Linked DNA regions of Homo sapiens: all the other regions are linked to region 2. The links come from fine-mapping of genetic effects on plasma protein levels. A gene starts in region 2. Each other region holds a variant in brackets. All regions are shown on one strand. Distances are between the middles of the regions.

Region 1 (2,766 bases), 25 kb after region 2:
TAAATTCAGACTATTTCTTAACAAATAAATGGAAACATACTTCATGCTTATTTTCATGTGAAAGAATTAGTTCAAGGTGATATTTCACAACACCTCTCAAGCTATTCTAGTCAGAGGCATATTTCTGCATTTATTTTTGTAGGTATAGATATACCCACAAAAGTAGTATATACATATACCTAATAAGTATATATACACCTTTCTCTCTCTATATATAGAGGTGTATGTATATATAGAGGTGTATGTATATATACACACACACACTTATAAGGTATATATATATATACACACACTTATTTATAAATATAAATAAGTATATAAGTATATACATATAAATATATACAGATATACACATAAGTACATACATATAAATATATACATATATACACATAAGTATATACTTTATATATCTGTAAGTATATAGGTATATAAATCCAATAAGTATAGGTATATAAAGTGTATATATGTATATATATAATATACACAGTTATATGTATATACACACTTATTTAATAAAATAAAAATCACTAGAAAAAATAGCTATTTACTTACTTTATGACATGTAATATTGTAATAATTAATTTTCAAATACTTTGTAATTTTGGAGAAAATTTAGCTAACTGACCTTTTCTAAGTATTACCTTTTTATAGTACAGGCACCAACAGATTATTATTGTTGTGGATTATATTAAGTATTGATTATTAGAGACTGTCTTATATTGAGTATTACATTGTATTACATATTAAGCATTATTATGAGAGATGTTTGGAGAATAAATTTTTGGCATTACACAAATATGTATGTTGAGCAAAATATTATTCTTGAATAAAGATATGGAATATAAATATTACTATTTAAAGATCTCTTATATATTTACCTGGTAAAATTAAGTTTGAACGAAAGATTCATAACATGTATGAATGCTAAGTGAAACAAGGTGTATTGTTGACATATAAATTACTTATAGTAAATATTTTTTATACCTCTCATGAACATAAATTCAAGCTAAAATATAGCAAACTTTATGAAGAAATTATTAAGAAAATTGTTCACATAGGAAGCTTCTCAACATACTTACTTTATTCTAAAATTCTCAAATAACTAAAGGTAAAATGAAAGTTTATTTTCAACTGTTTAATATTCCAAGCTATGCAATATGCAGAAGACAAAAATCATAATTTTACACCCAAAGCTCTCTTACGTCCTCATCCTTAGACCAGAGATATTAAGACTTGCAATTATGTATCTTTCTTACTCCCCTATGCGTGTTTTTGCAAAGAAGCTCCTGTTTCCTTTGTTTACACTGAGTGTGGACATCTAGAATATCAAATCATTCTAATGAAATCACTGCAGATTCTTCATTGGTCGTTATGAGTGTCCTAATTAGGTGGAACAATAGTAATGATTCCAAATTTTCTTCTATTTCAGCATCATTTCCATTCTTAATTCATTATGGCTATGCAGACAGGGTCAAGCATTTAATTAAGAAATGATCGGCCAGGCGGGGTGGCTCACGCCTGTAATCCCAGAACTTTGGGAGGCTGAAGCAGGCAGAT[C/G]ACAAGGTCAGGTGTTTAAGACCAGCCTGGCCAGTATGGTGAAACCCTGTCTCTACTAACAATACAAAAATTAGCTGGGTGTGGTGGTGGGCACCTGTAATCCCAGCTACTTGGGAGACTGAGGCAGGAGAATTGCTTGGACCCAGTAGGCAGAGGTTGCAGTGAGCCGAGATCGTGCCATTGCACTCCAGCCTGGGCAACAAGAGCGAGAATCAGTCTCAAAAAAAAAAAAGAAAGAAAGAAAGAAAGAAAGAAAGAAAGAAAGAAAGAAAGAAAGAAAGAAAGAAAGAAAGAAAGAAACCCCATCTCTACCAAAAATACAAAAAAATAGCCAGATGTGGTGGCACACCCCTGTAGTCCCAGCTACTCAGGAGGCTGAGGCAGGAGAATCACTTGAACCCAGGAGGCGGAGCTTGCAGTGAGCCGAGATCGGGCCACTGCCCTCCAGCCTGGGCGACAGAACGAGACTCCATCTCAAAAAAAAAAAAAAAATTATTTGGATAATTCTCCCAAAAGAAATACCACACATGTACATGCAGAAAAATTCAGTCTTGAAGATCAAATTTGTCATTCAAATTAATTAATTTTACCAGGGAATTCCTCATTTGATGGCTACATGGTATAGTGGAAAGATTATTCAATCATACTATTTGTATTGCAAATAACAAAAAATTCGGCTCACACTATTTTAATGGAAATTTATTGTATCATATATTTGGAGATTCCAATAGTATGTTCTGGCCTTTGGGCATGGTTGGATCCACAGGCACCAGCAGTATCTGTTGGCTACAGTCTCTTTCTTCATTCCTAATTTTATATATATATTTAAATATATATATATTTTTTTGCTTGCTATCATTGTTTGTTCAGACATTCCCCATGCAATAGGTGAGAAGACGAGAGACCCATATTCAGCTACAGACCCATATTCTCCCATCTTAGCAACCCATGAAAAAAGATGATACCAATAGTAATACCAATAAAATAACAGCAGGTATTCAGCTATAAGAAATTACTTCATGCCAGGACATTTCCAAGTTCTTTAATACTCTTTTACTAATCAAAGCAATTTTATGAAGTGGATGTATTATTGTTCATATTTTAAAGATGAGAGTAAGTCCATTAGGCTTTTTGCTAAGTCCATTAGAAAATTTGGGAAATCCCTGATTGATCTGATTGTGGTTCAAATTCTTATTGCTGACACTATCT
Region 2 (2,766 bases):
ACGCGCACGCGCAAATCTCCCCGCGCACGGCGCGTTCCCGCGGGAGCGCGCCCTCGCGCACGCGCCTGGCAGGGCAGCCGCTCGCCGGCCCTGGGGCTGCTCCGCGGCTCCCACGAGCGGGACTGGACGCCGGCGCCCTTCGAGGAGGGGCTGAACCTGGGGCGCCCTCTCTGCCGGGCCACCCAGCCCTGCCGACGCACACCTGCCCTCCGCCGCCGGCCTCCCACCCCTTCCCCGCCCGCCTTCCCGCCCAGCAGCCCAAACGCCCACCCTGCGCTCCACCCTGCTGGCCGTCTGGGGCGGGGGTACCTGGGCCCGCGCGGCTGCTGCTCCTCCGGCCCGTGGTTTTTCGCAGGAGTTCCCCGGCCCTGCCCCTGGCTGAGACACTGTGGCTCGCAGCGAGCCCGGAGAGTGGGAACGGAGGGGCTGGCTTTCCCCAGCCTCCCGGCTCCAATCCCTGCTCCCCAAATTAATCACTTTCTCCGTGCTGCCTCCCCACGCACACTCACACTCCAAAAAAAAAAAAAAAGCGAGAGAAAGAGAGAGGCACAAAGAGGAAGAAGGGACCATCCGCGACCGGCATCTCCAGCCCCCCGGGCTCCGCTACCAGGAGCCATGGCAACCACGGCCCCCGGCGCGCCCTCTCGCCCCTCGGCGGTCTGGGGAGGTGGAGCTCTAGCCCCTCTCTGGGTTTTCGTGCTCCCCAACCCCACAACCCCACGGTCCATGGATTCCCCGCTCCAGGCTGGCGGCATTTTCGGAACCCCCCCCGGGCTGGGATCTAGAATCCTCTCCTGAGAGGAGGAGCCACACAGGGGCAGTGGACTGGGGGGGTCTGAGCCCCACACACCAGGCGGTGTCCAGGGGAGCGAGGGGCGCGGTGGGAGACAGAGGCCGGGACTGACCCCCAGACCAGCTAGACCTCGGAGCCCCACCCGAGAGAGGGCGGAGATCTACGGGGGGGTCTGGAATCCTCCTCAGAGAGCAGCGAGGGATGGGGTGGCGGAGGCTGGAAGCGGGAGGGCCAACCTACCGGCGGCCGGCGGGCGTGAGTGGGACCCGGCGGATTCGGGCGCCCGGTGTGCTCCGTCGACTGACCCCGAGCTGTCCGAATCCGGCCTCGGCCACCGGGGGCGGGGCGTGAAAAGGGGGCGTCTCCTCCCGGGTGCAGGCTGAGGGGCCCGGACCACCCCCACTGCGGACGAGGGACCCTGACCGCGCCCCGCTTCCTTTCCATAACGAGTGGACCCCTCCCGGAGCACCTTCAGCCCTTCCTCCACGGGAGACCCCCCCAGCGCCGGCACGAGAGATGCCAGCGGACCCCCACCCCTGACACACCTGCGCCGCCTCCGAAACGCGATCTGTCCGGCGCCTCCCCTCGGGCGCCTTCTCCCCCGAGCCGGCCGGGAGCCGGGACGGGGGCGCGCAGGGTCCGGTAAGCTCTGGGCGGATCCAGGGAGGGTCTCGCCGGCCGCTGCCCGCTGGTCCGCACCCGGGGCTGTCCGCGGAGGTCCCGCCCGTCCCCTCCCGCCGCTGGCTCTCTGGCCGCGGGAAGGCTGGAGCCGTTCTGGCTGGCACCGGGGTCTACGCCCTCCTGCCGGAGGCTGGCTCTCGCCTCTGCTCCCTTCCTGGGTTCTGCGCCGCCACCCCTCACCCACGCCGCTTATCTTCCCTCCCTTTGCACGCTCCCGCGGGACAGGGAGAGTTACAGGCTTCAGACTTTATCTCGTTGTGGAAAGCAAGAGACCAAGCCAAAAACTTTGGTCGTGCTTTTCAACATCTCCGGTCAAAAGAGGTAGGATCCCTGCTCGTTTATCTGCAAAAGCGACATTTAAAAGAAACGCCCCCCACCCCCTCCCCGATGGTTTCACTCGGTTCATGTTGCACACACAGGTCGCCAATCTGCTTTTCTCCCATTGCTGCGTCTTAGAGGGGTGTGGTGCCATGTACGTATTAAAAATTGTCTTCTTGCTTTCCTTCATTTAAGGGCGTGGTGGGGCTTGCTATTGAATTTACAAAATATGCTACGACCATCCGCTGTCAAATTGTGCATGCTTAAATTTACAGATCTTCTACTATCTCACAATTTTTGCCCTAATACAGAGTCTATAATGTTACCACATCGTTTCGTAACGTTTTTCCTACTTATCCTTTATTAATTCACTATTGGAGAGGAAAGCCTTCTGTACTCATATTCAGTGCAAAAAGCCAGTTCTGATGCCTTATGAATCCACAAACACATAAAAATATTTTAGGATTCCAAAATTCATATGGAAAAATTATAATTTTTAGCACTACATTTGATTTATATGCCACTTTATTTTTTTTCCATTATGGTGGTATTTTCCAAAATTTTTACAGGATACCACTTTTGAAAATCCTGTTGAATGCAAGTCCTCTTTGTTGGTAAGAGAATTATTGACTTCTAATTTTTACTCCACTAAGGCTGTGAGATTGACCTTACAGCCTCGTTTTGTTTTCATCTAGCTCATTGAACAATGAGGATATTTAGCTCCCCTCAGAGCTACCCTCAGAGTTGGATGAGCTATCCTCAGAGTTGGATGCCACCACCGGGAGCAGCAAAAGCGAAGGCAACTCATGATTCTGCCTCAGAAGCAATCGAATAAAATATTTTGAAAATGAATGAATGGACTTTTAAATTTTAATCATCGCTAACCTTGGGGCCTCGATTCTGTCAATTTGTGTGTGGGCACAGTTCTTACCAACTGCCTTGGCAAATTGTGAATGCAAGTGAGGGCAGGATTT
Region 3 (2,766 bases), 20 kb before region 2:
CGCCCGGCCTACTTTTTGACTTTTCAATTATAACCATTCTGACCGGTGCGAAATGGTATCTCATTGTGGTTTTGATTTGCATGAAACGTGTTCTCTTTCTTTGCCCATTTTTCCTTTCTGTTGTCTTTTTCCTCATAAATTTAAAAAAGTATTATTTTGTTCTTTATGTCATTCTTTATATCACAATAAATCATATCATTTCACATAGATTTGAAAGTTAGCATCCAAAGCTTAAACTTTAATTTTTATAGAAGAAGAACACATTTAGCAGCACTTGACATCATCAATATATGGGCTAAAACTTAGGGCAGGAATTTGTGCTAAAGTCAACATAATTTATTTTCTATTCAGTAAACCTTTCAATGATCAAATGATTCCTTCTTTGGAAAAGAGGATGTGGGTAACATCTTCTCTACTGACTTGAGGAAACTTAAATATGATACACAAAAGTATATTAAGGAAAAAGATATCCAAACTCCATTTGATACCATTATCATGCCATTTTAATCAACACACATCATGCTTATGATCAATAATTGAATGGAAAGGGTCTTTCATCTTCTAAAACATAACTGCTGTAAGAATTAATAAGCAGGTTCTGTCAGTGCAGAAAGTATTCAGGAATTCTTTCTGCAAGAGCACACCCTCATCCAATCCAGAAGCTCACAAAATTTCACCCATCCCAGCCCTGAGGTCTTTTGGAAATCACCCAATCACTCTGCTATTAAGAAGCCTGAAAACACGTATCGTAAACCTTGTCATCTCACAACCACTTATTCTTTGATTGTTTCCTGTGGAGGTTTCCTGTGCAGGGGCTGTGGGTTATAATTTACAACAGCCCCCAAAGCACCCATATCATCTTAATAGAAGTACAATAAATAAAATAATAAAACAGCCTTGCTCATAAAATCCCCTTTATCACATCCTCATTCAAGCCTAAGCTGTTCTTATCTCCCTTGCGGAATACCAACTGGTCCTCCTCTCCATTGCAATCTACTCTGCATGCAACAGCCAAGGTTTGTTTTGTTTGT[A/T]TATATAAATATATATACATATAGACACAAATTACATCAACTAGCTTAACTGTTGGAATTCCTTTGAAGTTCCTATACTGCACTTAAATCCATATTGTTGTCCATGACCTACAAGGCCTTATGTGATCTGCCCTAAGCTCACCTTGTGCCAGCTGGTTTCTCCCACACTCACTGCACTGCAGGTTCTAGCCTTCTGTCCATTCCAGATGGGGCCAAATTGATTCCTCCACACCGCCTCTCCACTTGCTTCCCCTCTGCTGGGAACTCTGCTCTTCTGGCTCTTTTCCTGTTTGCCTTCTTCCCTTTCTGGCTCAGCGTGAAAGGCACCTTCTCAGATAATCCTTTCTAAAGTAAGTTTCTCCTCCCATTTTTTTCTATCACAGTCCTTTGTTTCTTTCCCGTAAAGATTTATTTATTGGCTAACATTCTTAGTAATGGCAACTCTGGGAGGGCAGGAAATCTGTCTTCCTCACAGTGCCTGGGATTTGTTCGCAGCTCAATAAATATTTGATGCATGAATAAATGAACCAATGGCTTCTTAGAATCAGAGCTACACATGCACACACACGTATACACATATACCCTTTGCTTGGAGAGACCTGTTTTCTTTCCCTGTTTTGTATCTGGGAGCACAGCTGCAACCCCATGGGTAATTTTTTTTCTGTTATTGTTCTTTTTTCAGCATGAATCTATTAATAATCAAACCAAATTATTCAGGAATTGCACAGAAGGTAATTTCTTCCCCAATGCACACAGGACCAAAGGGTGGGGGAAAATCAAGCTACTGAAAATTTCCTTCCCCTGCAGACTTTTAAACTGCTAATCAGCACAAGCAGCTTGTAGCAGACTGAGCACAAAAGGTTGCTGAAATGGCACATAACTAATTCCAGGTGATTTAATATCTTATGCTGCCTTAGTGAAAATATTGACAAAGAAGAACCACATGATTTGGAGTTTTTCTGCACTGCTGAATTCAGTGTTAGCTTCTGAGCCTCTATCATGGCATTTCCATATATCAGCATTGCTTAAGGAAGTAAGTCTGGGTGTGCCATCCAGAAACCACTGCCAAATTGGAGAAATGCTAGTTTTCTGTTGTGATTGGCCATATTTAGCAGCCTCTCTTAAAAATGTAGAGTTCACTTTGGCCATGGCATCATATGCCTACAGAAGAAATAAGTCTACCAAATATATTGCCAATACCCATGGGTAGTTGGCAGTGATAGGAGAAATTTGAAGTTCAGATACTTTTGGTAAAGCCACATCTCACACAAGACATCTGTAAGCACAGACTTTTTTTAATAGACAGGGTTGGTGTAGAGTTGACTCTCCTAGGGTTCAAAGGCTAGTCTTTCATTCATAAAAGTATTCTGGTACAACGTTTCAGAATTAACTCTCAGCTTTATGAAAGAAAATGTTCATTTTAATTCTCCTGATCACATTAGAAAGAATACACAAAAGTGAAGAGACTTTTTCAATTGTCACATAAGAATGTCAAAGTTAAAATCACAGGACAACAAAAAGGAAAGAGAAAACTATAATATTTAGAATTATTCTGTTAAACACCCTTAAAGATATAGTTTCTGGTTTTTTGAGCCCAAACTGCAAATACCAGTAAGACAATATCCCCCATAGCACTTCAATTTAAAATTGTGCCATCAAGACATCAGCTTTAAAATACTATCTGATTAGTTTTATCCCTTTTAAATACAGTGGTATTTTTTACACATCAATTTTT

Which allele goes with the higher level. Alleles are on the strand shown, and positions count from the first base shown. The strength of an association depends on the size of the effect and on how common the allele is. Not every link is listed here.
With allele G in place of C in region 1, the plasma level of the protein whose gene starts at base 1,639 in region 2 is higher (moderate association).

The links. A credible set is the group of variants that fine-mapping cannot tell apart. PIP is the posterior inclusion probability: the model's chance that the variant is causal. The UK Biobank Pharma Proteomics Project read protein levels with antibody pairs (Olink). The fine-mapping took linkage between variants from a reference panel, not from the people measured, so its PIPs are less certain.
Region 1: its variant is the best candidate, but not a certain one, in a credible set for the plasma level of the CHL1 protein (UK Biobank, PIP 0.52).
Region 3: its variant is the best candidate, but not a certain one, in a credible set for the plasma level of the CHL1 protein (UK Biobank, PIP 0.85).

Annotation. Positions count from the first base shown.
Region 1 is chr3:171,041-173,806 of GRCh38, reverse strand. No RefSeq gene overlaps it. Among named protein-coding and RNA genes, the nearest start is that of CHL1, 24 kb to the left of the region's middle. The variant C/G (reference allele first, on the strand shown) is at 1,558.
Region 2 is chr3:195,636-198,401 of GRCh38, reverse strand. It overlaps CHL1 (cell adhesion molecule L1 like), which reads right to left and starts at 1,639. Exons shown (of 28, transcript NM_006614.4): 1 at 1,339-1,639. It overlaps CHL1-AS2 (CHL1 antisense RNA 2), which reads left to right and starts at 1,061. Exons shown (of 4, transcript NR_144487.1): 1 at 1,061-1,435; 2 at 1,894-1,946; 3 at 2,362-2,406; 4 at 2,488-2,644.
Region 3 is chr3:216,108-218,873 of GRCh38, reverse strand. All of the region lies in intron 1 of CHL1 (cell adhesion molecule L1 like), which reads right to left. Among named protein-coding and RNA genes, the nearest start is that of CHL1-AS2, 20 kb to the right of the region's middle. The variant A/T (reference allele first, on the strand shown) is at 1,032.